Regions from separate parts of the Homo sapiens genome. Here region 2 is linked to region 1. A link means that fine-mapping ties the variant in region 1 to the expression of a gene that starts in the linked region. Tissue or cell type: testis. Region 1 holds a variant in brackets; the other region holds the start of a gene. All regions are shown on one strand. Distances are from middle to middle.

Region 1 (15,235 bases):
ACTTGCGGGGGTAAGTATTCTGCTTACCATGATAATTTAAACTCTGGTCTTCTTGACTCCGAAAGCCATGCTTATCCAAGGACATACACCCTGCTCCTGCAGCCTACATTTAAAGCATGGGACACATGTACACAGAAAGCATTCCTTAGGTACAACTGACATACCAAGCCTCCTTTGAGCTATGCATGCAAACTAGTGATCATAGCGACAGTGATAGGTCAGACTTTGGTGTACCAGCCCTAAGGCCTCTGCATGTCCTTAAGAGTTGAGGGGTTTTCTCTCTGGAGAAGGTGTCTATATCAGCAAGGGTCTTGATATCCCACTCAAAAAGATGATTACAACCACTTTTCTGAAGCTACCTAAGAAAGGAAATGCTTTCACAGTACACTGAGAACTTTGCCATAAACAATATTTTTCAAATCATAATAACATAAATATTGACAAATAATTTAAAAGATGGTATTAATATAACTACCTTGAGAAGAAGGGATTGGGGGATATATAAAGTTAACTCCTCACCTGGCATAACAGGGAGCTAATAGAGTTTAATGTGGATAAATCATAAAATTATGACTCAATTATGTTATTTTTTAAATGCGGGAAACAACCAGAAGAAATGATGAAAAGAGTTAAAAGTAAATGTTTCTGGGGAGCAGAACTTGGAGGCAGGAGACTGTGGTTTTTTATTATAAGCCTTTCGGGATATTTTAATTTAAAGCCAGACCTTAAGAAAAGTAAGATCCAGATCTATTCTTGGTATAGAATTGTGGAAATATGATGACTGGAAATTGGAAAGATCATTTGAGAGCTTCCTTCCCATCATTTGCAACTTGTTTGCAAAAGATGGGAAAGGAAAAAAAGAAGACAAATCCCAACCTTTTATTGTAATATGTAGAGACTAAAATCGTATGTAGATGAAAATCCAAATTTTATTTCCCCTGCAATCCAGACTCAGCACAAATAACCAATTAAACCCACCTTCAAAGGCAGACAAAAATCATATCACTCTTTTATGCTTCTACCAGCATTTGAACCACCTCCATATAGACATAATTAGTTAGAAAAAGTCAGGTTAATATTTTTGTCAGTGTCTCTGTGTGTGTGTATTCAATAAGTTTGCAAATATATCTTTGGCTCCTGTTAAGGAGACCCAAACTATAATCCTGCTAAATGTCCAAGTCTCCTGTTTATGACTATGTAAAATCGGAGGCTACAGATGCCCTAAATACCCTCCTATGCCAAAATATCTCCACCATCACCCCTGCCTAGGCTGTCAGTTCCCAAACTGGAATTTCCCGCCTCACTCATTTCTCTGGGTTAAAGTCCAGCCTCCAGGAAGGCCCAAGTAAAATACCAGATTAATCTGAAAAGGACCAACTTGTTAATAACTCACTAACCCCTTGACATGCATTCATTCATCTCTTACAGAGAGTTGGGTCCTAAAGAATGGGACAGTAGAAAGATGGGTTTTCCTAGAGAGGGTCTGAAGTATGGGAAAGAGTAGGGGTAGGGGTCATGGAATCATCTTGGATGAGGATGGAAAGGCAGCATGGGGCTCTGGGAGATGGTTTGAGTGGCAAAGAGAAAGGAAAGTGTTTTCCTTGGTCAGCAATCCATGGTGGCACTGCCCAACACAACACAGACTGCACCCTGGAGATGGGCAGCATGGCACTGGGGGTTGCAAATGGATGTCAGTCTTGCCTGTGTTACTGGGGAAATGAAGAGTCAAATGAACTAAAGCAGTGGTCCCCAATCTTTTTGGCACCAGGGACTGATTTTGTGGAAGACAGTTTTTCCATGGACTGGGATGGGGGCAGGGATGGGGGTAGGAGGGATGGTTTGGGGATGAAATTGTTCCACCTCCGATCATCAGGCATTAGTTAGGTTATCATAAGGAGCGTGCAACCTAGATCCCTTGCATGCTCAGTTCACCATAGGGTTTGTGCTTCTGTGAGAATCTAATGCTGCTGCTGATCTGACAGGAGGAGGAGCTCAGGTGGTAATGCTTGCTCGCCCACCACTCACATCCTGCTGTGTGGCCCAGTTCCTAACAGGCTACAGACCAGTACTGGTCCACAGCATGGGGGTTGGGGACCCCTGAACTAAAGGACTGGAAACCACTTTGATAGGTACAACGTAGGTAAAATAGAAGCCTCCATGACCCACTGTGGTTTCCTGAAATGTTGGTTTTTCATTCAAATGCTTTGGCAGCCACAGAGTGTGGAGTGTTAATAGTTTATCTATAACTGGCTATCAGAAGACAAATGGAGTAGGACACAGGGCTGAGATGAAAGGTAAAGAGACATTAACAGGAGCTCTCCCCTACAACTTCCAGTGAAACACACCTATGGAGAAAAATGTTGGGATGTATCTATATCACCATCTATTTAGAAGCTACAGAAAGCTCTTATGGACAAAGGCCTGCTCATCCTTAAAGACTTCCCTTGAAAAGTCTTTTCAGATGTTCCTAGATAAAGTATCCTCCCATAGCCCCTTAGTCATATTTCAGAACAGCATTTGTCACTTGGTCTTGTAATGATGAGTTAATACACTTGTTTATACCATCCAACTGTGAACTCCTAGACTGAGGAATATCTTTGGACTGAGGACATATCCCCACATGGGAGCACTGGGGAGAATACGTAGGCATTTCCCATTGAGCACTTTTTGAAATAAGTAAATAAAAGGGTCACAGAAAATTGAAGCCCTTGTGATCTTTTAATTTCCTCAAAAGCATAACTTAATAAATGTGCAAAATGCACAAACTTGCTTGCATGATCAACCCTTGGCCTCCCTCCTCAAGTGTCAAGGGAACAAAAAGATAAGAGGTATCATATTTAAGAAAGATAATGCCATCTTCTATCCATCCAAGGGAGGTTCAGTAACTTCTATGGCCATTAAATGCTGGAAGATTGATGTGGGCATGCTCTGCTTGGCTCCTACCTCTTCTTCTGGAAGCTGGCTGCATCTGGGAGTACACATTCTCTGCCTCTCCTCCAGGGATGAGCTCCTGGTTAGCACTGCCTGAGAGAGGGGATCAAGTCTGTCCAATTCTGAGGTCCTATTAAGCAGGCCCATGTAGTTCTTGCACTAAACTACACGCTCCATCTTAGTAATATTTGGTAATATTTTGGTCTCCTCCTTCTGTTCCTTTTTCTTATTAAGCAACAGTGAGATATGATGGTTTTTAAATTAATTGGATGATATATTTAAAAGCTATAAAATGCTAATATTTGACCTGTTGTTTGACCTGGTTGTTCTATGGAGCTTTATCAAGGGAAAAGAGAGCCCAAAGAGATTTCTTGGCTCCAGTAGAGAATCTAAGATTATCAGGGATTTATAAAGATGTAGTAGGCTAGGTATGGTGGCTCAAACCTGTAATCCCAGCACTTTGGGAGGCCGAGGTGGGTGGATCACCTGAGGTCAGGAGTTCAAGACCAGCCTGGCCAACAGGGTGAAACCCTGTCTCTACTAAAAATACAAAAATTAGCTGGGCGTGGTGGCAGGTGCCTGTAATTCCAGCTACTCAGGAGACTGAGGCAGGAAAATCGCTTGAACCTGGGAGGTGGAGGTTGCAGTGAGCCAAGATCATGCCACTGCACTCCAGCCTAGGTGACAGAGGGAGACTCTGTCTCAAAAACAAACAAACAAACAAACAAAAAGATGGAGTAAGTAAACCATGGTTCAATCACCTGTGACCTTAGAAGGCCTTTTCACGGATAGTTATGAACCATGGTGACTACCCATGATCCCTTCATGATGACGAGCATTGGGATGACCGTGGTAATTTGATGGATAGCTGCCCTTCTTTTATTTAGAGGTCACTATAGGTCAGGCCACATGCTGAGTGTTTTACATGCAATATCCCATTTATTCTAACAAGCCTGTGAAATAAGTATTTATCCTATGTTACAAATGAGCAATCCAAAGAAATCAGCTCAAATGACAGAAATCAGATTATTTGACAAAGATCACACAGTTGGTAATGGCTCAGAAGGAACTTGAACCTAGGTCTCCTAGCTTCAAATCTCCTCTCAGAGTTGTGACTTTAGGAGGCCTTCACTAGAATCAAGGCACGCACTACAGTCCACAGTCTCTGTGCAGGGTGACTAATGCGAATGGACCTAAGACCATGTCTGTCTCCATACTGTCTGTGGGAAGTGGCAAAGATGCATTTGTGAGTAGTGAATGAATGGAGCTTTTCTTTTGGTTTTCAGCTCACTCCATATCCCCTAAAACCGTAACACTCATGGATACCATAGTCTGTAAAATCAAACGAAAATTACTTACAAGCACTGGTAAAATCTAAGCAGTGGAGTGCCAGTAAATATTTAACAATTGGTTCTCTGAAACAAAAAAAAAAAGCCATAATATGTAGCACCTGCCAATTTTCATGCTGTAAATACTTCCAGCATGGCCAGTTTCAAGCTACCAACCTGACAACTCTGAACATGGAGTTGAGAAGAGACGTATTGAACTGGTTCTTTCTAGCTGGTAGGAGCCTGCTCCAGCACACCACTGAGTCTAAGCAACCCTGTAAAGTCAAATTTGGGGGAAGGAGATGAGAACTAAGCCTCTTCTTATTAATCTGAACTGGAAAATGTGTCTTACATTCATTTGTGTTTTTCTTTATTGTGTACATTTATTTCATTTCACATGTGCCATCACAGAGCTAAAGTACAGTTCCACAAAAGCTGTGCTGGGAGGATGCAAAAGTCATCAAGAACATGGTCCCTACCTTATACATACTCAGCCCCCTCTAGAGTCACATACCTGAACTCACTAAACTTCATAGCAACCCCGTAAGGTGAGAGAGACAGAATAGTGAGTATTAGGCCAGGCACAGTGGCTCATGCCTGTAATCTCGGCACTTTGGGGGGCTGAGGTGGGCAGATCACCTGAGGTCAGGAGTTTGAGACCTGCCTGGCTAACATGGTGAAATCCCATCTCTACTAAAAAATACAAAAATTAGCTGGGCATGGTGGCAGGTGAGTGTACTCCCAGCTACTCAGGAGGCTGAGGCAGGAGAAGAGCTTGAGCCTCGGAGGTGAAGGTTGCAGTGAGCAGAGATCCCACCACTGCACTCTAGCCTGGGTGACAGAGTAAGATCCTGTCTCAAAAAAAAAAAAAAAAAGAATAGTGAATGTTTTAGAGATGAGGATACCAGGATAAGGGAGACTATGTCTTGAACCTGCCTCTTTCTCCCAGTCAGGGACTGTCATTTGCCACTCATCACTCCTCATTGGGGAATAATTGTAGGGTAAGGTCAATGCGGGTTCCTAAATTCGAGTGTCTCAGGGTTCTGTTTAATACTTGCTCTTCTCTTTATATAGCAGTTTAATAGCAGGTTGTAGTCTTTGAAATTCCTTTGGCCTCCATACCCAAAGAATGATTTCCCTTTTTCTATAGATCAAGTTCTGTCTCCTTTCAATAGTATCTTTTCAGTAGAAAGAATGCAATAGTTCCACAGTTGCTACTCTACTTGGTAAATGCGGTGGAGGCCGAACAAAAACTGGGTTGGGGAAAAAAAAAGTTAGGTTGAGAACCACCAAAGTTGATTCTTTTCTCCCGTGAGATTTACTGAAAATTCAGGTGAATTACCTTTGTGTGACTAAAAGGGACTTAGGGAAAAATAGCTGAGTTTCCATTAACCAAATTCCCTGGAACCAAAGGAAAATTGTGCACTTTGTTGCACATTAAAAATAGGAACTGCAAGTATTAAAAGAGCAAAGTATCACATTTAATAATCACGAGGTGAGGCTTAATGATAAACTACTATATCTACATATGCACATCATATACTTGCAAAACATAACAGACTATTAGAGCAAAACTTAAGGAACTATGAATGCTAATTAGCTAGTTTATCTAAAATGTCTACCTGTTCTTAATTACCTTTTTTTTTTTTTTTCCTAAGAAGTAAGCTTGAATCTGGCCTTACTTTTTTTTTTTTTTTTTTTTTTGTGTGTGTGAGACAGAGTCTGGCTCTGTCACCCAGGCTGGAGTGCAATGGTACGATCTCAACTCACTGCACCCTCTGCCTCCCGGGTTCAAGTGATTCTCCTGCCTAAGCCTCCCAAGTAGCTGGGATTACAGGCATGCACCACCATGCCTGGCTAATTTTTGTATTTTTAGTAGAGGCATGGTTTCACCATGTTGGCCAGGCTGGTCTCGAACTCCTGACCTCAGGTGATTGGCCCGCCTCGGCCTCCCAAAGTGCTAGAATTGCAGGTGTGAGCCACCGCGCCCAGCCTCTTAATTACTTCTTAATCAACCTGGCTTTCTCTGAGTTCTCAGAGGAATGGGACATTCAAATTTACCTTAAACTCTTTGAAACAAAAACCATGAGAACATAAACCCAATACAAATGCTTTCAAGCTACAGAATATCAAAAGCCATTTTTATTGAATTCTATTTAGTGATCTTCTCCTCAGTTTTTTTCTTTTTCAAAGCCTGTTTCCAACATAATTAGAGAGAAGACATGATGCTAAGATTTCTAGTTTGTTCTCAAAAATGCCCCTTCTTACTTTCTTGATGCTTTTTTGCATGGCAGAGAGAAAAGGGCCATGTTGTTGTAGGGTCCCTATGATATGAGTAGAAACATTTTACTTATTGTTAGAAAGCTGTGGTTACCTTGGCAGGGAGTAGCTACCTTGCTCAGGAAGCTCCCCCTGGTTGCGTCTCCGGGAATCAGCCCTCAGTTAACCAGGCAGTTCACCATTTATTGTATTTATGGCTTAAACTTTATCCCTTCTTTTAAAGGGATTCTTTTAAAGAAGTATTTATCCCTTCTTTTTGAGGGATCTGGAATAAAACAGTCTAACCCATTCTAGAATCTACTTTAAATTTCTTTTATTTACCAAGAGGGAAAGAAATAATCTCAGGTTGTTTGCAGATCAAAAATGTAGAACTGTTAGAAGAAAGGTGCTGGGAAAATTAGCAATGAAGTGAGAAAATGGTTTAAAAGAGACAACTGCACAGCAGCTGGTCCTCCAATGTGTGTTTTGCTGATGAAAATCTTTCTGAGGGGCTGTACTGGAACAAACCCATATTAGGAAATCCCAATTCTGTCTACAGCTAAGACATACACGAAGTCAGTAGCACCTCAGGGTTTGTTTTTTTTTTTTCTTGAATATTTCTCTTTGCTGTCTCTGTAACTGAATATGTTAGAAAATTACTCATATTTTCCTTCAGCTTCCACAAAGAAATTTAGGTTAAGCAAGAGGAGAAAAGCAATTTCTAATTTGTTTATGGGTCTGCAAGTTCTGCAGAATCTGAGGAGAGAAGGATAAACTTACTGGTAAATAATTCACCTTCCCACCTCTCAAATAGTTTTTCTCAAATAGAAACACTCCAGGCACACACAAAAGTTCTCCATTTCGGGGAGCAGCCCAAACAGTGTCTCCTCCTTAACTGGCAAACTTTGCCCTAGAAGCTCCTTCACCTCCACCCCAGAGAGCTTCAGGGGAACCAGGGCTAGTCCACTCCAACGCCTGTCCCTACCTGCCCGCTTGTTCCTAATGACCTCAGTCCTCTGTCGCAGAGCTCTCCAGCTACCAGGAAGAAAACAGACACTATTCTCTGCCACCAACTCCCCATCCCAGCCAGCCTCCCAGCACACAAGAGCCTCTGCAAAGAAACGATAGTGCAAGCACATTTTCTTATGGAACTATCCTGGATCCCTCCACTGTCCCATGCCTCAGGATTCTCTCATCCAAGCACCCTATTTCCCTTCCCAACGTAGAGCCACGCCCTCATCATTTTCAACATTTATTTTTTGGAGACAGATAGGCGTGTTCTTGGTTATTCAACAACTCCACGATCAATGTGGTACTTTATTTAATACGTCTGATTTCACTAATGCACAAACAACCTTGCCTGAGTCTGGTATGATCATTCTCATCTTATAAATGGAGAAGCTGAGACTGGGAGTTTCCAAGACACCCCAGCTCACAGTCACTGGCAAGGGCCGTCCCCAAATCTGAGCCTTCCGCGCAGCCCAGGCTGCTCCCAGCTGCACCATGTTCCGGGTGCAACGAGAGAAGGGTCAGAAGTGAGCGGGCAGAGGACGCCCTCCCCTGCTGGCTGCTGGTGGCACTAGGGGCTCCTGGCAACGACGCCTGTCAGGGACGCCTTTCCAGACGCATCAAACCCAGCTTTCAGACGCTGAAGGTGACATCCTGTGAGGGCGACAGCAGCAGTTATTGGAAAGGGGCCGGGTGAAGTCCTGAAGTACTGACTGCTTAGGCTCCACGCACCATGCTGGGTAGACCCTTTCTTCAAGGCAGCTTCTGAGTTGGACATGCCCATTTTGCAGATGGGAGATGAAGGCTTCTGAATGTTAACTAACCCGCTAAGCTGAAGAGCCAGGAGGATTTGGACCCCGGGCTGCCTTCACAAGCCCACCTTCTGCTGGTCCACCTCCTCATCCCAGGATCTAAGGAACCTGAGGGAAACAAGAGCCCTGTATTAGTAAAGGTTTCCCAGAGAATAAATAGTTATAGATCAATAGCTATGAGATTTATTATAGGAATTGGCTCATGTGGTTATGGAGACTGAGAAGTACTCCCATCTGCTGGCTGCAAGCTGGAGAACCAGAAAAGCCAGTGGTGTAATTTGGTTCAAGTCCAACAGAGTGAGAATCGGACTAGCCTTGGGGGGACAGGGGGTGGGGGAGCCTGTGTAAGTCCCAGGATTTGAAGGCCTGAGAAGCAGGGCACAGATGTCCAAGGAGAAGATGGATGTCCCAGCTCAAGTAGAGGGAGTGAATTCATCCTTCCTCCACCTTTTTATTCTATTCGGGCCCTCAGTGGATTGGACGGTGCCCACCCACACGGGTGAGAGCAGATCTTCACCCAATCCACTGAGTCCAATTCCAACCTCTAGGGGACAGCCTCACAGACACACCTAGGAATCATGTTCCACCCACTGTGTGAGTATCCCTTAGCCTAGTCAGGTTGACACATAAATTTAGCCACCACTAGCCCTCTGTACAAGGCCACTGCCCCACTCCCTGGGCTGGCTTCTGATGCTGCCTGCAGGCCAAAGCACCAAGATCTTGGCTAGGGTCCCCATCCTGTAAGCCATGCAAGGACATTCCTTCCCTCCTGTCTAAAGCCCTTCACCCTTCTAACCACTCCGCTCTGGTGGCCAACGCTTTGAGGGGGTAGCAGAGAAAGCTGTGTATTCAAACCCCTGAAAGAGGATGTCCTAAGTTTGTCTTGGATGGAACTAAACCATCCCACATCCATAACTGTGGGATCCCTGCCATCCCGGAATTATCTTATATTCACAACTCCGACTTAAGGCACAAACAGAAGCTACTGTCTGACACGTTGGCCCTTGGCTGGTACACACAGAGTTGAACCATCTGTTGGGCAGTTTGCCCAAGGCTTGTCTTGCTTTTGGCAGCCCATATTTATCTACAATGGGTCTCTCTGATATGAGGGTAGACTTTGCTGGAGGCCAGGGTAACAGAGCATAGGAATTAGGCATGTGTCTCCTTCCTTGATTTTCCAAGATGCCTTTAGAGGATCCTCAACCTGCTGACACTTGCTGACTAGTAAAGCCCTTCCCTTTTCTACAATTGTACTTACGAATATCAGATAAAGGCAGGAAAGGTTGGGAACATGCAAAAGAGCCCCTAGCAGCTGTGTGGGGAAGCGGACAGCTCCCCTGTGGGGCCTGTGATGGTGCATTGGTATCACGGTCTTGTGTGCAAAGAGGCCGGGACTGTTCTTCCCACTTGCTGGATCAAAGAGGTGGCACACCTTGTTGAAGGTAAAAAGAGCCAAAGGCTTAGAAGGAACTTCCATGAGACTCTCCCTCTCCTCTATTGGTGCTCACTTAGCTGAGAATATGTACAACGATATCCTGGCCTGGGACAAAACAGAGCAGGTGCTAAGAGGATCACGGCTGTCACCTGATATCATTGAAATGTTTGGGGCAGGGGGTCCTCCCTCCGGGCCTTGCCAGGTACCCCTCTACTGTGCTGCTCCATCTCACTCCTGCTGACTCGTCCACCATGGGACAATCCAGAAAAGCATGAGAAAAGCACTTGGCACTTCTTGTGTGGGAAGACATCACAGTGGCCGCAT[C/A]CCCCATGAGTGTTCCTATCTTCTGTGCCAGGGCTGCAGAGAACACAAGCTGTGGCTGCGGCACTCACTGCCTACTCTGCCTCCTCCATTCACATCTTCACACAGATGCCAACTGTCTGCCAAAGGGAATAAAAAATAAAAGCAGAGTGAACTTGACATCCTATACCTTCCAGCATTATCCCTCTGAACAAAGTAGAAATGGTGCAACAGCTGAAGAAAAGGACTCAGAGAGGAGAGAACGGAAGAATGATGAGATGTGATGAGTTAGTGAAGTCAGGCCCCAGGAAATTCCACACCAGCAGCATCAATCTGCCTTCTGTACCCAATGCTGAGGGATCAAAACTTGGAGCCCAGGGCTGGAGCCTCAGGATTCCTCCCCAAATCACACTGGCATGACTGTGTGCAACCCCGGAGTTGGGCTCATGTTTCTTCTGGAATTGTAGAATATAAGGCACAATTTATTCTATCCTTTCATCTTCCTGCTTTAAGTTTAGAAATTGCTGGTGGCTTTCCCTTAAAGGGAGTACATTTAAATTTTTTGTATTAAGTTCTTAAGTTTCTTAAGGCAAAATATTGATGGTACCATCACCATCTTCGTCTGAAAGTCATGTTCACATTATAGAAAAGACTTTCGCTAGACTGAGTCTTCCTCAGTCAAAGATTATATCTTGAAAGTGTATACTAGGTTAAGCAACACTTTTGAAATGTTATCATACTTTAATCAGAATTTCACACACAACACATTAAGAGTAGCCAACAGTGAGGTCAATGTCCTTATTTTCAAAAAAGCATTTTTCTCCAGTTTATTTTTATGAAAGGTCAGTGCCTTGGACATAATGTTCACTTCCATTCAAGAACATTTCTTGATAAGTAGAAATAATTTTTCAGGCAAAAACCTGATGTTCTAAGTTCAATAATAACCTGTTTCTACACTATGCCAAATTCTGGTGTGAAGGGAATTTTTACTGACATGGTAATTTTTTCACACATTTTATGATTTTTAAAAAATAGCCAGGTGTGGTAGCTAACACCTGTAATCCTAGCACTTTGGGAGGCTGAGGCGTGTGGATTGCGTCAGCCCAAGGGTTTAAGAACATCCTGGGCAACAAAGTGAGACCCCGTCTCTATTAAAAAAAATCATAGGATATCCAATAGTCAACAGTTCTCTGGTTTCAAATTTCTGCCAGAAAAATAATCTACAAATCAACTTGTCTAAAGCAAAAGTCCTTATTCATAATAGCTGCCATCAATTTCTAACTATTATGTTGCTGATAACAGCATATAGCAAGTCAGTCAACTCAGTTATTGGGAATATTTTCAGCTGTTAATGTTGGTATGTGTGCAGCATAGGGTTAAGACTGTGGGTATAGAATTCACACTTCCCAAGTTCAAATCTTTGTTTATTGTTTACTAACTGTCCAAACTTGGGCAATCGACTAAACTGCAATTTCTTCATCTTTAAAATGGAGACAGCATATTCCTCCTAGAGTTATTGTAAGGATTAAACAGGCAGGTAAGAGCTAAGGTGATTATTGCAATGCTGAAAAAACCTTATCAGTTTCTCTTATTATATTTCTCAAACTGTGTAGATCATGCTTGGAGAATAAAGTGTTTAAGTTGGTCAATTGAAAATCTTTTCGGAAAATTAAATACCTTTGCTGTTAATAAGTCAAATCAATGTTAATAATATTCTTCTGTGTATGTCCATAGCCTTGAATTGTAATCCAGCCTATAGCCCGTATCATTTTGTTTGAGTTTTTAACAATAGACTGAATTGTTAAAGAACAGTTTTAGAGTTTCAGAAGAGTTGAGAAAACAGTAGAGTTCCCATATGCCTGTACCGAGTTTCCCCCATGGCTATCATCTTAAATTTCTGTGGTACATTTGTTACAATTAATGAACCAATATTGATACGTTATTATTATTAGCTAATGTCCATGCTTTACTCAGATTTCCTTATTTTTACCTAATGTCCTATTTAGGTGTTAGAATCCCATCCAGAATATCACATAACACTTGGTCACCATGTTCCCTTAGGCTCCTCTTGGATGTGACAGTTTCTCAGACTTTCCTTTTTTTATGACCTTAATAATTTTGAGGTATATTGGTCAAGTAGTTTGTAGGATGCCCGTCTATTGGAATTTTACACTTTTCTCATGATTAGGCTGGTTTCTTGAGGAGGAGGACCCCAAAGGTAACGTGCCATTTTCATCACATATCAAGGGAACATACTAACAACATGACCTTTCACTGTTGATGTTGACCTTGATGGCTGAAGACGTGTTTGTCAGATTTCTCCACGGCAAGGTTACCCTTCACCCCGTCCCTTTACCACACTGTGTTCTCTGTAAGGAAGTCACTATGAGCAGCCCACACTTAGGAGTGAAAATTTATGCCCCCCTCCTTGAGAGCACAGTATCTACATCAATTATTTGGAATTCTTCAACATGGGATATTTGCCTCATCTTCTCTATTTATTTATTTATTCAGTAATTTATTTATACAAGTATAGTTTGTTTTATAATCCACCATCATTTTATTTATTTTGTTGTTCAAGCTGTGTTCCTAGTGTAAAGAAAAGATAAATATTTAAGGTGATGGTATCTGATTATCCTGATTTGATTATATGGATGTATCAAATTATCACACGTACCCCCAAAATATGTATATCTAATATGTGTCAATTAAATAATCATTCCAGTTTTGTCATTGGGAGCTCTTTCACACACACAGAGCTCTTCTGCGGTCCTTTTGACATATTCCCATCAATGCTTTTTAAAACAACAACAACAAAAACAACACTTCCTTACTTTCAAGCACTACAAGATGCTCCAATTTCATCTTGTATATTTTCTACCCCAGTCCTTGATAGCAATTTCTCCAAGCAGCCTTGCTTCCTTTTACTGAAGAATGGCATCAAAAACAGATCTGGGAGCTAGGTGTGCTAGTGGCTACTGGGTGTTGTTTCATTCAGGTACTTTCACCTCACAAAGCAAGGAAATATATGAATGTATACTCACCTGTATATAAAACATATCTATAAATATTTCTATGTGTAACCATTTACATTTATATTAAGCTAGACATGAGTTCCTACTGATCTCTCCAACTGTAATCCTTTACCACATGGATCATTCTATTCTCCTGATTCCCTTGCTTATCTGTAAAGTTTCACCCCAAAAGAGAGAAATCTTGTTCCCAACACTTGCCATTCATTTACTCAATTATTTAATTCCTCTCTCTCTCTCTCTCTCTCTCTCTCTCTCTCTCTCTATATATATATATATATATATATATATATATATATATATATGAGTATCAGAATTATTGACCCATGGGAAGCAATATTATCAACTACAGTACAGTGCTTAAATTCAGTTCTTTTCACCTTTAGTATTACACACTAAAACATTTCCAAAGTTACTGAGGTCAGCATCTTTCTGCCTCCCCTCATTTCAATGGGGTTGAACATTATCATTTTTAACCAATAAACAAACAACTGGATGTTATATCAACACAAAAGGAACTTCATGTTCACACGTCTATACAAACAAACATTTCACTTGTTTAAAAAAAAGTAAGTTAGTTATAGAATAAAAGATAAAATATTAACATTTTATATAAGATCTGATGTAAATTGTCATCAACAAAGTGTTCATATCCCACATATTTTATCAAGCTTGTCAAATATTGTTCATGCAAACTATCAACTGTAATTCACCTTGGCTTTTGCTAATTGCAAAAATGTTCTGGCCGGGCTTGGTGGCTCACGCCTGTAATCCCAGCACTTTGGGAGGCTGAGGCAGGTGGATTGCCTGAGGTAAGGAGTTCAAGACCAGCCTGGCCAACATGGTGAAACCCCATCTCTACTAAAAATACAAAAATTAACTGGGTGCAGTGGCAGATGCCTGTAATCCCACCTTCTTGGGAGGCTGAGGCAGGAGAATTGCTTGAACCTGGGAGGCAGATGTTGCAGTGAGCTGAGATTATGCCATTGCACTCTAGCCTGGGTGACAGAGCAAGACTCTGTCTCAAAAGAAAAGAAAAAAAGTTATCCTTTCTGACCACTGCTTTTAAATCTCCACTTTATTTTTTCCTGGGAAATAAACTTTAGGCACTTGAACCACAGCAAGCCTTGACCTCAGCCTGGAATAAACCACACTAATTTGTTGAACCCCAGGCTGAATCCTCTTTTCTGTGTAGGTGTATTGCTTTTTAAATTTACAAATGAAACTAATAGTTTCCTACCTTGCCACCCATATCAATATGTTTATATCATCTATACTTACATATTTATATCTATATCCATTCTTTTTAAATTTTAAGTTCTGGGGTACACATGCAGGATGTGCAGTTTTTTACATAGGTAAATGTGTGCCATGGTGGTTTGCTGTACCAATCAACCTATCACCTAGGTATTGAGCCCAGCTGCATCAGCTATTTTTCCCAATGCTCTCCCTTCCCACACCTAACCCCCCGACAGGCCCCTGTGTGTGTTGTTCCCCTCCCTGTGTCCCTGTGTTCTCATTGTTCAGCTCCCACTTATAAGTGAGAACATACGGTGTTCGATTTTCTGTTCCTGCATTAGTTTGCTGAGGGTAATGGCTTCCAGCTCCACCCATATCCCTGCAAAGGACATGATTTCATTCCTTTTTATGGCTTTATAGTATTCCATGGTATATGCATACCAGATTTTCTTTATCCAGTCTATCATTGATGGGCATTTGGGTTGATTCCATGTCTTTGCTATTGTGAATAGTTCTGCTATGAACATATGTGTGCATGTATCTTTGTAACAGAATTATTTATATTCCTTTGGTTATATATCCAGCAATGGGATTGCTGGGTCAAATGGTATTTCTGGTTCTAGGTCTTTGAAGAATCACCACACTGTCTCCCACAATGGTTGAACTAATTTACATTCCCACCAACAGTGTAAAAGCGTTCCTATTTCTCCACAGCCTTGCCATCATCTGTTGTTTCTTGACTTTTTAATACAAACCATTCTGACTGGCATGAGATGATATCTCATTGTGGTTTTGATCTGCATTTCTCTAATGATCAGTGATGTTGAGCTTTTTTTCATGTTTGTTGGCTGCATGAATGTATTCTTTTGAGAAGTGTCTTTTTCATATACT
Region 2 (15,235 bases), 17 kb after region 1:
GATATAGGATCATGTCATCTGCAAACAAAGACAATTTTACTTCCTCTAAGAGAAAAGAATCAAATAGACACAATAAAAAATGATAAAGGGGATATCACCACTGACCCCACAGAAATACAAACAACCATCAGAGAATACTATAAACATCTCTATACAAATAAACGGGAAAATCTAGAAGAAATGGATAAATTTCTGGACACACACACCCTTCCAAGACTGAAACTGAAAGAAGTTGAATCCCTGAATAGACAAATAACAAGTTCCGAAATTGAGGCAGTAATAAATAGCCTACCAACCAAAAAAAAGTTCAGGACCAGATGGATTTACAGCTGAATTCTACCAGAAATACAAAAAGGAGCTGATACCCTTTCTTCTGAAACTATTCCAAATAATTGAAAAGGAGAGACTCCTCCCTAACTCATTCTATGAGGCCAGCATCATCCTGATACCAAAATCTGGCAGATATAAAACAAAAAAAGAAAACTTCAGGCCAATATCCCTAATGAACATTGATGTAAGAATTATCACTAAAATACTGGCAAACCAAATACGCAGAAAATCAAAAAGCTTATCCACCACGATCAAGTTGGCATCATCCCCGGGATACAAGGCTGGTTCAATATATGCAAATCAATTAACGTAATTCATCACATAAAGATATCTAAAAACAAAAACCAAATTATTATCTCAATAGACACAGAAAAGTTCTTCAATAAAATTCAAAATCCCTTCATGTTAAAAAATTCTCAATAAAGTAGGTACTAAAGGAAGATACTTTAAAATAATAAGAGCCATTTCTGACAAACTGACAGCAAATATCATACTGAATGGGCCAAAGCTGAAAACATTCCCCTTGAAAACTGGCACAAGACAAGGATGCTCTCTCTCACCACTCCCATCCAACACAGTATTGGAAGTTCTGACCGGGGCAATAAGGCAAGCGAAAGAAAGAAAGAAAGGGTATTCTATATCCACTTTTACTCAAATTCTTTTAAACCTCAAATTGTAAGAGACTACTGTCAAAGCTAAAACAAAATTATGTTGGGAATTTATGCCATATATCACTGCAATGAGGTCGAACTTCAGGAACTGTTAGCTCCTAACCATTTAAACAAAGAGAGATATTAAATATACTGATTTTAATGTCATCCCTCTGACTTCCTGAACCAACGACTATTTTTCCTGAAGGCACACAAAATTCAAAATTAAATAAAAAGGTATTTTTGAAAATAACTCCCACATTTCTGAAATGAGAATGGGGCAGCACAGATGCACGTTGACGGCTACCTCCATCGTTGAAAAGGGAGTTTCTGAGGCAGTTCTAATGAAGTGGCAATTTTGCAGATAATGTAAAATTCAAAAACACTATGGAGATGTTAGGCACAAACACGCCAAGCACATAAAGCAGCATCTGGCAGTTTCCCTTTGGAGGCCTCGTGTGCCAGCATTTCACTTAGATAAGAAAAAAGTCTCCTATTTTCAGCAATCTTCTTAAATGCTTTAATTTGACACTATCTGAAAGTGATACTTAAGTTGTGGTAAATCACATTTAATTGCAGCAGTCTACTGTCTATTATTTCACTATTGCTTCAATTTCTCTCTAAGCTCTCAAAGACCTCATGGAAAATAAAATATTCCTTAATGGAAGTGCTTTCATTCTTAGTGACTTTTTGCCCATCTTGGTCAATTATTTTGACATATGCTAAAGCAGTAACAGTCATATTAAAAGGCCAAGTAAAGCTGAAAAGTACAACTCATCTCTAAGAACATTTGGCTGTGTTTCTATATTACCTGCTTAAAGAGTCTAAATCTTGTTTTTAGCCACTCTCCCGGTTCTCTACCTCTAATGTTGGAGTAATGAGTTCGTGAAGTGCCTACTAGCCATGAGGACTAGGGGCTCGGGGTACAGATAAAGAAGACACAGACCCTGCCCTCCAGGAGGCTGAAGGAAAGAAGGGCAGGCCAATCAGTGCTCCTGAGACAGGGTGGCCCTCCTTCTGAGTCTTCTGTTTACTGAGGGCCTTTGTGCTGGATACTGGGCTGCTCCTCCATGTTCATTACTATCTGATATGGTTTGGATCTGTGTGTCCACCCAAATCTCATGTTCAGTTGTAATCCCCAATGTTGGAGGTGGGGCCTGGTGGGAGGTGATTGGACATAGGGGCACTTTCTAATGGTTTGGCACCATCCTTCTAGTGCTGTTCTCATGACAGACTTCTCATGAGACCTGGTTGTTTACAAGTGTGTAGCACCCTCCCTCTCTGTCTTCCTCCTGCTCCAGCCATGTAAGACAAGCCTGCTTCCCCTTCTCCATGCTTCCCTTTACACCATGATTGTAAGTTTCCTGAGGCTTCCCCAGCCATGTTTCCTGTACAGCCTGTGGATTCATGGACCAATTAAACATCTTTAGAAATTACCTAGGCTCAGGTATTTCTTTATAGCAGTGTGAAAAAAAACTAATACAGTCCCTCCTAACAGTAATGCCATGATGCAGGAAGAGAGCCTTACATTTAGGTAAGGATGCTTGGTCCTCTGAACATGTTGGTCCTTTTTATAGGTCCATCGTTCAGGCCACCTTAAAGAGGCAACTTGGGTGTTGTCCATCCAAGCTTGGACATGGGAATTTTGAGAAATAAGACTCTGGGCTCTGGAGGTTCTAGTTCTCTGGTTATCCCATCTGAAGTCCAGCTACCTCTGGAGAACAGCAAGTGGATGTGGATGAATTTGTTCTCAGTGATTCCTAGAGCTGGGTCTGAGTCTTGGGATGCAATGGAAGCCTCTTTCCTCTTCATTAGGCCCATTTACTGAAGAGCCTGAGTTTCAGAAGAGTTAGTGGACTTGCTCAGGTCTTGACAGATAGTTGGAATTGAAGGCTAAGTTTCTCCAGACCACGACAGAGGTTGCCATGGAGGTGCAGAGAAGATAATGAAAATCATGGTGGTAGATGGAGGTGGAAGGGGTAGTTGGTAAAACAGAGTAGGCACCCCAGAAATTATACTAAATCATTTTTTAAATTATTTTTAGTAATTAATGCATTCCTCCCCCTATATGGCCAGAGTTCTTAGAGTTGGGAGAAATCTTTGAAATTATTTGGATCATTCCTGCCTCCCAAGACTGGCAGAGAGGCACTGAGGCTCTCCTTCATCATCTTTAGGGATAAAGAGCTCATGCATGAATGGGGCTGGGGGTCCCTGGCAAATTCCGACCACTGGGGAATCTCTTATCAAAATTTACAAAGAGGAAGCAGGAAGCTCCTTGTTTCCAGTGTATATCACTCTTAACTAAAGCTCAGAGAAATTAAGATATTCTCTATGGCACTACTCAAAACCATGCACCATGATGAGTTGGCAGGATCAGAAGAAAGACCTTTTGCGGATGCCTACCTAGAAGGTTGCAGTGGATACTGGAATTTGGGTTTAGAAAGAAAAGGACAAGGGGATGCTACAAATAATGTCAAATTGAGGCTTTCAGTTTGTGTGGGTCAATATTAGCTTGTTGGGAAACAAGTGCCAGGTAGTCTGTGACATTCAAGGCCCTGATATCCTAAGAGTAAGGAAGAAATAGTGTTTAACAATATTCATCAGAGCAGTGGAGTATAAGAAAAGTCCACATATGTTCTGTGAGTCAGCATGCTGGGACTGAATTTCTAACCTCCTGGTTCTTAATTTCCTCATCTGTATAATGAGAGACTTGTTGAAGATCTTGCTAATATTCTACAGTGGGTTTTAATTTTTTTACATACTTGGTGAAAAAAAAAACAAAACCTCATTTTTTCCCCTCAATCTGATACTAGCTGGTCTAAGTCTCCATCCTTCAGGTTAGAGGAGCACTTTCCCTCAGTCATGTTTTCTACGAATCTCTAGGTGTCTTGCAGTCTAGAACATTCAAGTAAGGATTCCTGGTCCTCTGAACACTTTGGTCCCTTTTAAAGGTCCATGGCGCCGGCTACCTTGAAGAGGCAACTTGGATGTTCTCCAGACAAACTTGGACATGGGAATGTTCAGAAAAATGGGAGTTTGCGCTCTGGGGGTCCTGGTTCTCTGGTTAACCCATCTGAGGTCCAACTACCCTCTGGAGAACAGCAAGGAGACAGATTTGTTCTCTGTGATTCTTAGAGATGGGTCCCAGTCTTGGGAAGCAATGGAAGCCTCTTTCCTTTCCCATTAGGGCCATTTACACCTTTCCCAACTTTTGGTTTCTTTCTCCGGGCCATACACTGAATCCATTGTCATCATATGCTTAATTTTTCTATCACATAAGCCCTCAGTGAAGGATGTCTTCTGGGTGTCTAAAAACATTCTGTTTTTAACCATATGTCAGTTTATCTTTGGTTGTGTGCTGAACATGGTATTTGTAAAATACTTGTTGAAATAATTTGAGGGCAAGGATAATGTTACCTTCCTCTGAGGAGGATTTGATTTGTCTTTGCAAGGCACCTCAGGGAGCTTGCAATTCAAGATCAGGTTAATTCAAGCACAGGACTTTTTACCAAGCAACTTAGAAATATTTAAATAATTGAACAATTGATACAGCTGTACAGGTGCCTCCCAAATGAATATCAGCCCTAAATGCCCCCAATACTTAGGTTAAGTTCTTGTTAATATGGCTATATAACATATCACTCCCAAATTTAGGATTTGAAACAATAATTATTTCTCACGGTTTCAGTGGGTTAGCTCAGAAGCAGCTCAGCTGGGTGGTTCAAACTCAGGGTCTCTCATGATGTTGCAGTCAGATGTCAGTAGGAACTGGAGGCTCCAATTCCAAGGTGGCCCACTTACAAGGCTGGCAAAGTGGTGCTGGTGATTGGCAGGAACCCTTAATTCTTCTCCATGTGAATCTGTAGATGGAGCTGCTCGAGAGTCCTTGGAGAGCGGTGGCTGGCTTCCGCAGAGAGAGAGATCTAAGAGGTGGAAGATACAATGCCTTTTGTGACCTAGCCTCGGAATTCACACCCCATCACTTCCTCCACATTCTATTGGTCACCCAGAGCCAGCCCTGATTCAATGCGCAAGGGAACTAAGAAGGACATGAATACGAGGAGGCAGGAACCATCACAGGCTGTCTTGCAGACTGGTTACCACACACAGAAATTGGGACTTGAATCCAGGCCTCTCTGATGTCAAAGTCCTTGTACTTCACTGTGCTGCCCTCCCCAAGCAGCCTCTTGAATCTGTGGATCCCTCTAAGTGTAATGTCACCTTCAGCCTGCAACAGTACAGAATGGATAAAGTAGTGATATTAAACATGCTGTAAGAGAAGAAGAGAAGCCTAGGCTCCTTGAGCATGATTATAAAATGGGGACCAGTGAGGAGAGGATAGCCTCAAGAAGAAGAATTGAGAGGGGCTTGGTTAACTATCCCTAACTGGACATTCTGCTTTTTGCTGTTCCTGGCATCAGCTATCAGAAAGTCTCTGTGGGTGAGTTTCTGAGCACTCTTTTATGCCATTAACTACACTCTTGCGAAGCTTCTGTTTGAAGGGTTTGGATTTTCTTAGGCAGTGCCAGGTTTTCAGAATAGAAATTGACTGGTTTCTCCCCCAGAAAGTCTATAGCCTACCGTGTTTAACCCCAACCTCTAGTAATAGCTCAATCCACGCTGATCCCCCAGGGTTTGCAGAACAGAGTCTCGGTTGCAAACACTGCAATCAGCAGCTTGCTGTTTTTCTCTTTTTCTTCCACTTTATTTTATATTGATATTTAATGAATGTTTCTTTGGTGGTATTGCTATGTTCATTATTTAAACTCTGAAAATTGAAGCCATAGAAAATAATTGTTGATTCACCACAGGGAGCCATATAAATATTGTTCTAAATTCTAATGACCATGACCATTGGGATTATTTTTTGTGAAGCATAATTTCCATTATTTTGAAAGCCCTCAAGTCAGTATCTTAGAAGGGCAGCTGTTTTCTTGGCTATTTTCAATAGGTTTTTCTTCTTTCTTCATTTTTCCTTCCCTCCTTACCACATTAGACACCCTCCTTTTATTTCTTCCCTTGCCATTGTATTGTTTTTTGTTTGTTTGTTTTTGTTTGTTTTTGAGACAGATTCTCACTCTATCACCCAGGCTGGAGTGCAGTGGTGAGATCTCAGCTCACTGCAACCTCCGTCTCCCGAGTTCAAGCGATTCTTCTGCCTCAGCATCCCGAGTAGCTGGGACTACAGGCGCACGCCACCATGTCCGGCTAATTTTTGTATTTTTAGTAGAGACTGAGTTTCACCATACTCTCCAGGCTGGTCTCAAACTCCTGACCTCGTCATCTGCACGCTTTGGCCTCCCAAAGTGCTGGGATTACAGGTGTAAGCCACCACGCCCAGTCTGTATTGTTATTTTTATTGCTATTGTTAATATAAACGAGGCCTCAGGACTTAGAGCTTCACAACTAAATAATACCTGTGTACATCATTTTGTATTTTCAAGTTGTTTTTACAAATATCATCTTATCTGATGCACATTATAACTGAATGAGATAAATGGGACAAACGTCATCCCTATTTACAGATAAGGACAAAATCCCAAAGATTTGCAGAGCTACAGGGCTGGTTAGAGCAGGTCCCTCCTCCAAGAGCAGATCTCCCTCCCTTAGTATTATCTCACCCCTCCGGGCCTGGGAAACCTAAAGATACTTTGTGAACGCATGTCTGTATCTACAGAAAGCTCTGCTAGTTAAAGAAACTACCCTAGACCAAGCTGCGCTCTAAGGGGCTGGTGAGCTCTGTTATTTTTAAAATTACTTTAAATATTTTTTCTTTTTAATTAAAATAATGAGTCAAACATAGGGAGGATTACAGAAAATAATTTGGAACCAATCAGATTTATCTGAGGTGACCTTTTGCCACAGATGCTTGAAGTCCATCCATCTCTCTTATGAAATGAAATGTTACAGAAACAGCTCATTCTCTCCCTCCTCACTACTCCTTGCCTCCCTCCCAAGGCTACTTCCATCCTGAGTAGTGCTTTCTTCAGTTGCATGTTGATCTACTGTTATATACAAGAATGAGTTACAAGTCATATGCCATCAGCTTTGCATTTTGCAAGAATTTTCACAAATATTATGCTATCGCATGTACAGACTTTAGGCTCACTGCTGAACAATGCCCTGGGCTTCTTTCATTTTTCTGCATGTCTCACTCCTCTGGCTATGCCTGTTTGGGCTGGGAGAGAATACAGGGAATGTCCAAGATATTAGCAGTTCCTATGGCAGCAAGTGCTGGTTTCTGTGACTGTGGTTCCCTAAGAGAGGCAGAAAAGCAAGGGGACTAAGCTTCCACTGTGCACTTAATCGCAGGGCCATAGCCCAAGTAGGTTGTAAAGGCCGATGACATCCCAAGACAGGCTGGAACTTGAACTGACATTTTACAGAGGAAAACCAGGCCCAGAAAAGAGAATGGTTGCTTTAATGTCACACTTCCAGAAATTGGTAAAGCAGGAACCATCTCAGAGCTTATGACACCTTTGTACTAAACACATTGCCTTTAGGCAGTCTTATTCTTCATCCAGTAAACAGCAGACCATGGATTTGATTGTTTTCTTTCTTTTCTTTTCTTTTCTTTTCTTTTCTTTTTTTTTTTTTTTTGAGACGGGAGTCTTGCTTTGTCGCCCAGGCTGGTGTGCAGTGGCGCAAACTTGGATTTGATTGTTTTCTTGCCTCTGCTCCCCTGAGGAAAATGCCAGCAAACTATAAAATTTCATTCCCTGAGATCCTGGCAAGCTACATTGGACTTAGGTGTCTGCTGTTTCTGGGAGGCAGCAAGGATCTGAGTTTGGGGGAAGATCAGGTCACCGGGCTGAAGAGTAGCCCGAAGATCTTTTTTACCTGGATCGCCCTCTGGTGGCAGATTCGATAACAACCGCTCTAATTCATCATCTGAAATGCAAAGTGGTTGCAGCTCAAGTTTTCCTTGCTCCTCTTGGGACTTGCTCGTTCCTCATTAAAGCATCCCTATGCCCACTCTATACAAGACACATTTACTTTGAGCTGCATCCCTGAGATAATCGACTCCAAGCCAATATTTCTGTGTGTCAGTCACAGTAACTGGAGCTGTGGCATGGAAAATAAGAAGAAAGCATTGTTCCTGACCCCAAGGAATTTAAGTTAACTGGGTGAGACAGGCATACAGGCAGCTGACCAGACTCGGAGTCAGTGTGACCGAGAATGGACAGGCTGGGGGAATGCAGAGGGAGGAGGCCTTGGTGGGGAAGCTAGTGTCTGAGTTCTCAAGGAGCAATGGGAATTCTGAAGTTGGAGAGGGGCAGGGACACTGGAGGAGGGGAGGACAGGGCATGGCCCCTTCCTCCCTCCCTGTTTCCCCTTCTCCTTGGGGCCTTGCTCTCTTTCTCTTCCTCTTTACTCACCCCAGTACCAATAGCCCTACAATTCATGACCACCCGAAGCGTCCATTTTCTGGGAGAAGATTGGGCTCCTTAGCCTCTTCCTACAGACCTTTCTCTCTGAGTCTTCCCATGGGTCCTTCTGACATCTGAATAGAATGACCAAGGCATAAATCTCAATCATCGAGGTTTATTAAGTCAGCTTGAGGGTGCTTCCGGGAAAAATACAAGCCACAGGTACATCTGTGGCTGTTTTTCTCAAGAGAGTTTCAGGGGATTTAGTATTTACACATTTCCTTAAATGGGGGAAAGGCTTTTAGGAAAAAGGGCAGACAGGTGGTAAGGCGAATGGCTACATTCCTGTGAGACTCTAGCTGCTGCCTGGTAAATCTACATTTTACATAAGACAAATTGGATGTTTGAAAATAAAAAGAGAGTAAAGGAAGAGTCAAGTATGCAGATGTCTCTGGGTAGGTATAGGAATGAGTCTTGTCTTTATTCTGCACCTGCACTTCTATCTAAGCTTGCGATCAACATTATCAGCATGGAATCAACTTTAATTTTAGGAGCTAGGCTGGGCACGGTGGCTCACGCCTGTAATCCCAGCACTTTGGGAGGCCAAGGCGGGCAGATCACTTGGGGTCAGGAACTCGAGACCAGCCTGGATGAAATGGTGAAACTCCATCTCTACTAAAAATACAAAAATTAAGGCCGGGTACAATGGCTCATGCCTGTAATCCCAGCACTTTGGGAGGTCAAGGCAAGTGGATCACCTAAGGTCAGGAGTTCGAGACCAGCCTGACCAACATGGTGAAACCCTATCTCTACTAAAAATACAACAATTAGCTGGGTGTGGTGGCGCATGCCTGTCCAAGCTACTCAGGAGGCTGAGACAGGATAATCGCTTGAACCCAGGAGGCGGAGGTTGCAGTGAGCTGAGATCACGCCATTGCACTCCAGCCCAGGCAATAAGAATGAAATTCCTTCTCAAAAAAAAAAAAAAAAAAAAAATTAGCCAGGCATGGTGGCATGCACCTGTAATCTCAGCTACTTGGAAGGCTGAGGCAGGAGAATCGCATGAACCCAGGGGGCAGAGGTTGCAGTGAGCCGAGATCGCATCACTGCATTCCAGCCTGGGTGACAGAATGAGAGTTAGTCTCAAAAAAAAAAAAAAAAGAAATTAAGAACTAGACTTAGTTTGTAGACCTAAAGTTACAATTGGCATGTCCTTGTGTTGCCAAAAAAAAAAGAGGTCCCAATCCAGACCCTAAGAGAAAGTTCTTGGATCTCGTGCAGGAGGGAATTCCAGGCAAGTCACAGAGTTCAGTGGGGAGGGAAGGTTTATTGACGGCTACTCAAATACAGGGTAGGGTGTCCTCAGAAAGCAAGCGGAGGAATGCCTCGTCTTTACATTTTTCGTATATAGGAGTCTTCTCTATGTGGAGACTGAACTAAGCTGTGTCTACCTGTGTGGGTGGGCTGGAAGCATGACCAAATTTATTATTCTGTTGATTTAAAGAAAACTACTGGTGGCACATGCCTGTAATCTAGCATTGGGAGGCCAAGGTGGGAGGACTGCTTGAGCCCAGGAATTCAACATCAGCCTGGACAACATAGCAAGACCTCGTCCCTATTTTTAAAATAAAATTTGTTCTACAAAAAAATTAAAAAGAAAAAGAAGGCCGGGCGCGGTGGCTCACGCCTGTAATCCCAGCACTTTAGGAGGCCCAGGCGGGTGGATCACGAGGTCAGGAGAACGAGATCGTCCTGGCTAACACGGTGAAACCCCATCTCTACTAAAAATACAAAAAATTAGCCGGGCGTGGTTGCAGGCGCCTGTAGTCCCAGCTACTCGGGATGCTGAGGCGGGAGAATGGCTTGAACCCAGAAGGCGGAGCTTGCAGTGAGCGGAGATCGCGCCACTGCACTCCAGCCTGGGCGACAGAGCGATCCTCTGCCTCAAAAAAAAAAAAAAAAAAAAAAGAAAAGAAAAAAAAAGAAAAAAAAGAAAACTATTGGCTGGGTGCGGTGACTCATTCCTGTAATCTCAGCCCTTTGGGAGACTGGCCAGCAAATTGTTTGAGCTCAGGAGTTCGAGACCAGCCTGAGCAACAAGGCAAAACCCTATCTCTACTAAAAATACAAAAATTAGCCTGCGTGGTGGCACACGCCTGTGGCCCCAGCTACTCAGGAGGCTGAGGTGGAAGGATCTCTTGAGCCAGGGTGGTGGAGTTTGTGGGGAGGTGGAGTTTGCAATGAGCCAAGATCACACCATTTGCACTCCATCGCGGGCAACAGAGTGAGACTCTGTTGGGAAAAAAAAAGAAAGAGAGAAACAGAGAGAAGAAAGAAAGAGAAAGGAAGGAAGGAAAGAAAGAGAAAAAAAAAGGAAGAAAGAAAAGAAAAGAGAAGGAAAGGAATCTATCCTTGACACTTTAGTGTGTGAGTGCATCAAAGCATAATTATAATTATCTTGAAAGCATATACTATTATGGGTATTGAGACATCTGGACTTTCTTTTGTTGTAGGATTGTGTCCTTGTAGGTATCCTTGGGCTGTTTCCTCAATTGAAAAATCTTATGACCATAGTTTGTGATTGGCAAAGAATGTGCCTTCCTGGTTTTCAAATGGAGTTCATTTTAAAATGGTGTCACCCTGGCTCTCCTATGTTCCTGTTTCCCTTGCTTATAGGAGGCCAGCAGAGAATTTACTTATGAATGATCTGTGGGGGCAGGGCTTTGTAGATGCTTGAGGCCTTTTACCTTTCCATGGGGATCTGGCTGATGCATAATGCTAGTAACAGGTATTCATTTGAAAGTGGGTGTTGCATGACTCAGCATCTGGGCTTAAGTTTGGAGGTCCTGACATTTTTAAATTTCCTTTACATTCCCCCTGTTCTTCAAAGCTTTTGGAGAAAGCGTTGAGGAAGACACGAGATTGTGGTTTATTGGTTTATCCAATCCTATGTCACCATGAAGCCTCCCTCTTAGGTGGTCACATCCTAGAGAGGGGGAAATTACATCAGAAAAGGACCAATGCCAAATTACAGCAACAAAGGGAAAGTAATCCTGGAAGCTGATTTAAGCTATGTGACTGTGTCTTCAATTAAAATATTCAGTCCCTTCCCCTCCCCCTCCCCCTCCCTTCCGTCTCCCTCTGTTGCTGAGGCTGGACTGTACTGCCGTGGTCTCGGCTCGCTGCAGCCTCCCTGTCCCGGGCTCCCGTGGTTCTCCTGCCTCGGCCTGACGAGTGCCTGGGATTGCAGGTACGCGCCGCCACGCCTGACTGGTTTTTGTATTTTTGGAGGAGACGGGGTTTCGCCCTGTTGACCGGGCTGGTCTCCAGCTCCTGACCTCGAGTGTTCTGCCCGCCTCGGCCTCCCGGGGTGCCGGGATTGCAGACGGAGTCTCGCTCACTCAATGCTCAGTGTTGCCCAGGCTGGAGTGCAGTGGCGTGATCTCGGCTCGCTACAACCTCCACCTCCCAGCCGCCTGCCTTGACCTCCCAAAGTGCTAAGATTACAGCCTCTGCCCGGCCGCCACACTGTCTGGGAAGTGGGGAGATCTCTGCCTGGCCACCCATCATCTGGGATGTGGGGAGCCCCTCTACCCAGCCGCCCCGTCTGGGAGGTGAGGAATGCCTAAGCCCGGCCGCCCCGTCTGGGAAGTGAGGTGCGCCTCTGCCTGGCCGCCTGTCGTCTGGGATGTGAGGAGCGCCGCTGCCCGGCCACCCATCGTCTGGGAAGTGAGGAGCGCTGCTGCCCGGCCACCCATCGTCTGGGAAGTGAGGAGCGCCTCTGCCCGGCCGCCCCGTCTGGGAAGTGAGGAGCGCCGCTGCCCGGCCACCCCGTCTGGGAAGTGAGGAGCGCCTCTGCCCGGCCGCCCATCGTCTGGGAAGTGAGGAGCGCTGCTGCCCGGCCACCCATCGTCTGGGAGGTGAGGAGCGCCTCTGCCCGGCCGCCCCGTCTAGGAAGTGAGGAGCGCCGCTGCCCGGCCACCCCGTCTGGGAAGTGAGGAGCGCCTCTGCCCGGCCGCCCATCGTCTGGGAAGTGAGGAGCGCTGCTGCCCGGCCACCCATCGTCTGGGAGGTGAGGAGCGCCTCTGCCCGGCCGCCCCGTCTGGGAAGTGAGGAGCGCCTCTGCCCGGCCGCCCCGTCTGGGAGGTGAGGAGCGCCTCTGCCCGGCCGCCCCGTCTGGGAGGTGAGGAGCGCCTCTGCCCGGCCGCCCCGTCTGGGAGGTGAGGAGCGCCGCTGCCCGGCCGCCCCGTCTGGGAGGTGAGGAGCGCCTCTGCCCGGCCGCCCCGTCTGGGAGGTGAGGAATGCCTAAGCCCGGCCGCCCCGTCTGGGAAGTGAGGTGCGCCTCTGCCCGGCTGCCCGTCGTCTGGGAAGTGAGGAGCGCTGCTGCCCGGCCACCCATCGTCTGGGATGTGAGGAGCGCCTCTGCCCGGCTGCCCCGTCTGGGAAGTGTACCCAACAGCTCCGAAGAGACAGCGACCATCAAGAACGGGCCATGATGACGATGGCGGTTTTGTTGAAAAGAAAAGGGGGAAATGTGGGGAAAAGAAAGAGAGATCAGACTGTTACTGTGTCTGTGTAGAAAGAAGTAGACATAGGAGACTCCATTTTGTTCTGTACTAAGAAAAATTCTTCTGCCTTGGGATGCTGTTAATCTATAACCTTACCCCCAACCCCATGCTCTCTGAAACACGTGCTGTGTCAACTCAGGGTTAAATGGATTAAGGGCGGTGCAAGATGTGCTTTGTTAAACAGACGCTAGAAGGCAGCATGCTCGTTAAGAGTCATCACCACTCCCTAATCTCAAGTACCCAGGGACACAAACACGGCAGAAAGCCGCAGGGACCTCTTCCTAGGAAAACCAGAGACCTTTGTTCATGTGTTTATCTGCTGACCTTCTCTCCACTATTGTCCTACGACCCTGCCACATCCCCCTCTCTGAGAAACACCCAAGAATGATCAATAAATACTAAAATATATATATATATATATATATATATATATATATATATATATATATTCTTTGGGCAATCATTATTCTAACCCTAGGTTAGTTTTTTATGAGTCTCTGAAGCATTTTCATTACAGCAGCAATCTGACAGGTTTTTCTGGACTGTAGTTTGAATCAAGTGTTTAAATGAACTTTCTGAAAAGTGCATACATCAGCAGGCAAAACAGTTGCTTATATGTAAGTTGCTGTTATTTCTCCCAAAGCTTAAGGTATATAGCATTAGTTTGCAGAGCTTTAAGAAAAGCACAGTTTTAATTTCTAGTAATTTCAAGTCAGGGAAAAAAAGGGGAGAAAAAGAAAAAAAAATTTTAATGTTAGTTTAGAGGTGTATAGCCAGGAAAAAGTTCAGGATCCAGTCTAAACTGTAGACAAATAATAAGATCTTAAAAATAACGAACAAAGGCTGGGCACCGTGGCTCATGCCTGTAATCCCAGCGCTTTGGGAGGCTGAGGTGGGTGGATCATCTGAGGTCAGGAGTTCGAGACCAGCCTGGCCAACATGGTGAAATCCTGTCTCTACTAAAACTACAAAAATTAGCCAGGTGTGGTGGCACGAACCTGTAATCCCAGCTACTTGGGAGGCTGCGACAGGAGAATCACTTGAACTCAGGAGGTGAAGGTTGCATGAGCCAAGATCGTGCCATTGCACTCCAGCCTGGGCGACAGAGCAAGACTCCATCTCAATAATAATAATAATCCTCCTCCTCCTCCTCAAAGGTAGAATCTAATAACAAGTGTACTATAGTTTCTTTTGAAACATATGTTTTTTTTTTAATCTCCAGTCCCCCATTTCTACAAAAAACGAATCATGTTAGGACCAATTTATTTGCAAAATATGTTTTAGTCTCATTATCCTTGGCCTGATTATTTGCATAAGGCACAGCAAGAATAATGATTGGGCTGTATAGGTTTCTTTTATTTTTTTAATTTTTAATAGTCACCTAGGCAAGAGTGAAGTGGCACAACCATGGCTCACTGCAGCCTCAACATCCTGGGCTCAAGCAATCCTCCCACCTCAGCCTCGAGTAGCTAGGACTATAGGCATGCGTCACCAGGCCCAGTTATTTTTTGTCGAGATGGGTCTTACTATATTACCCAGGCTGGTCTTGAACTCCTGGCCTCAGGCAGTCCTCCCATCTTAGCCTCCCAAAGCACTGGAATTAGAGGTGTGAGCCACCGTGACCAGACAAGGCCCCTTTTCAACTGGCTTTGCTGGAACTTTTCCTAAGGAATCTCAGATTAGACTTTTAAAAGCCTCTTGAGGTTAGCCAATCCAAGGTTTTATCTGTGCCCTCAGATACCTGTACAAATTGGGTACATTCCTCTCTTCTCAGGCCGGGCACAGTGGCTCATGCCTATAATCTCAGCAGTTTGGAAGCCCGAGGTGGGAGGATCACTTGAACCCAGGAGTTCAAGACCAGCATGGGCAACACAGGGAGACACCCTATCCACAAAAAAAAAAAAAAAAAAAATTAGCCGGGTGTGGTGGCACATGCCTGTGGTCCTAGCTACTTGGGGAGCTGAGGTAGGAGGATCACTTGAGTCCTGGAGGTTGAAGCTACAAGAACTGTGATCATGCCACTGCACTCCAGCCTGGGAGAAAGAGTGAGACCCCAACTCAAAAAAAAAAAAAAAAAAATTTCTCTTTTCTCAAGGTCTCAAAATAACTCAAGTTTCCCGGGCTCATTAGAAAGTGACATGGGTCAGGAACTTTGTAAAGGAATTGCATAGACAAGGTAATAGGCCAGTCTTTCCAATGGATTTTTATTAGCTCTGTAGAGTCAACCTCCATTCCTCAAAACTTTCTGGTCATATCTGAATATATACCATTCCAATTAAAGCCTTGGAAAAATAACCAGTGTCTCTAATTGTGTCCT

Alleles and levels. Alleles are on the strand shown, and positions count from the first base shown. SD is a standard deviation of normalised expression in the study named.
In carriers of allele A in region 1, the expression in testis of the gene that starts at base 4,905 in region 2 tends to be higher than with C alone (small effect, 0.32 SD a copy in GTEx).

What was found. PIP is the estimated chance that this variant, and not a neighbour inherited with it, causes the effect.
Region 2: it holds the start of LINC00658, and the variant in region 1 is fine-mapped to the expression of LINC00658 in testis (GTEx, PIP above 0.99).

The regions. Positions count from the first base shown.
Region 1 is chr20:5,424,193-5,439,427 of GRCh38, forward strand. It overlaps LINC00658 (long intergenic non-protein coding RNA 658), which reads right to left. Exons shown (of 5, transcript NR_038240.1): 2 at 12,908-13,081; 3 at 9,980-10,213; 4 at 9,597-9,878; 5 at 7,765-8,446. Among named protein-coding and RNA genes, the nearest start is that of LINC00658, 14 kb to the right of the region's middle. The variant C/A (reference allele first, on the strand shown) is at 10,098.
Region 2 is chr20:5,440,844-5,456,078 of GRCh38, forward strand. It overlaps LINC00658 (long intergenic non-protein coding RNA 658), which reads right to left and starts at 4,905. Exons shown (of 5, transcript NR_038240.1): 1 at 4,661-4,905.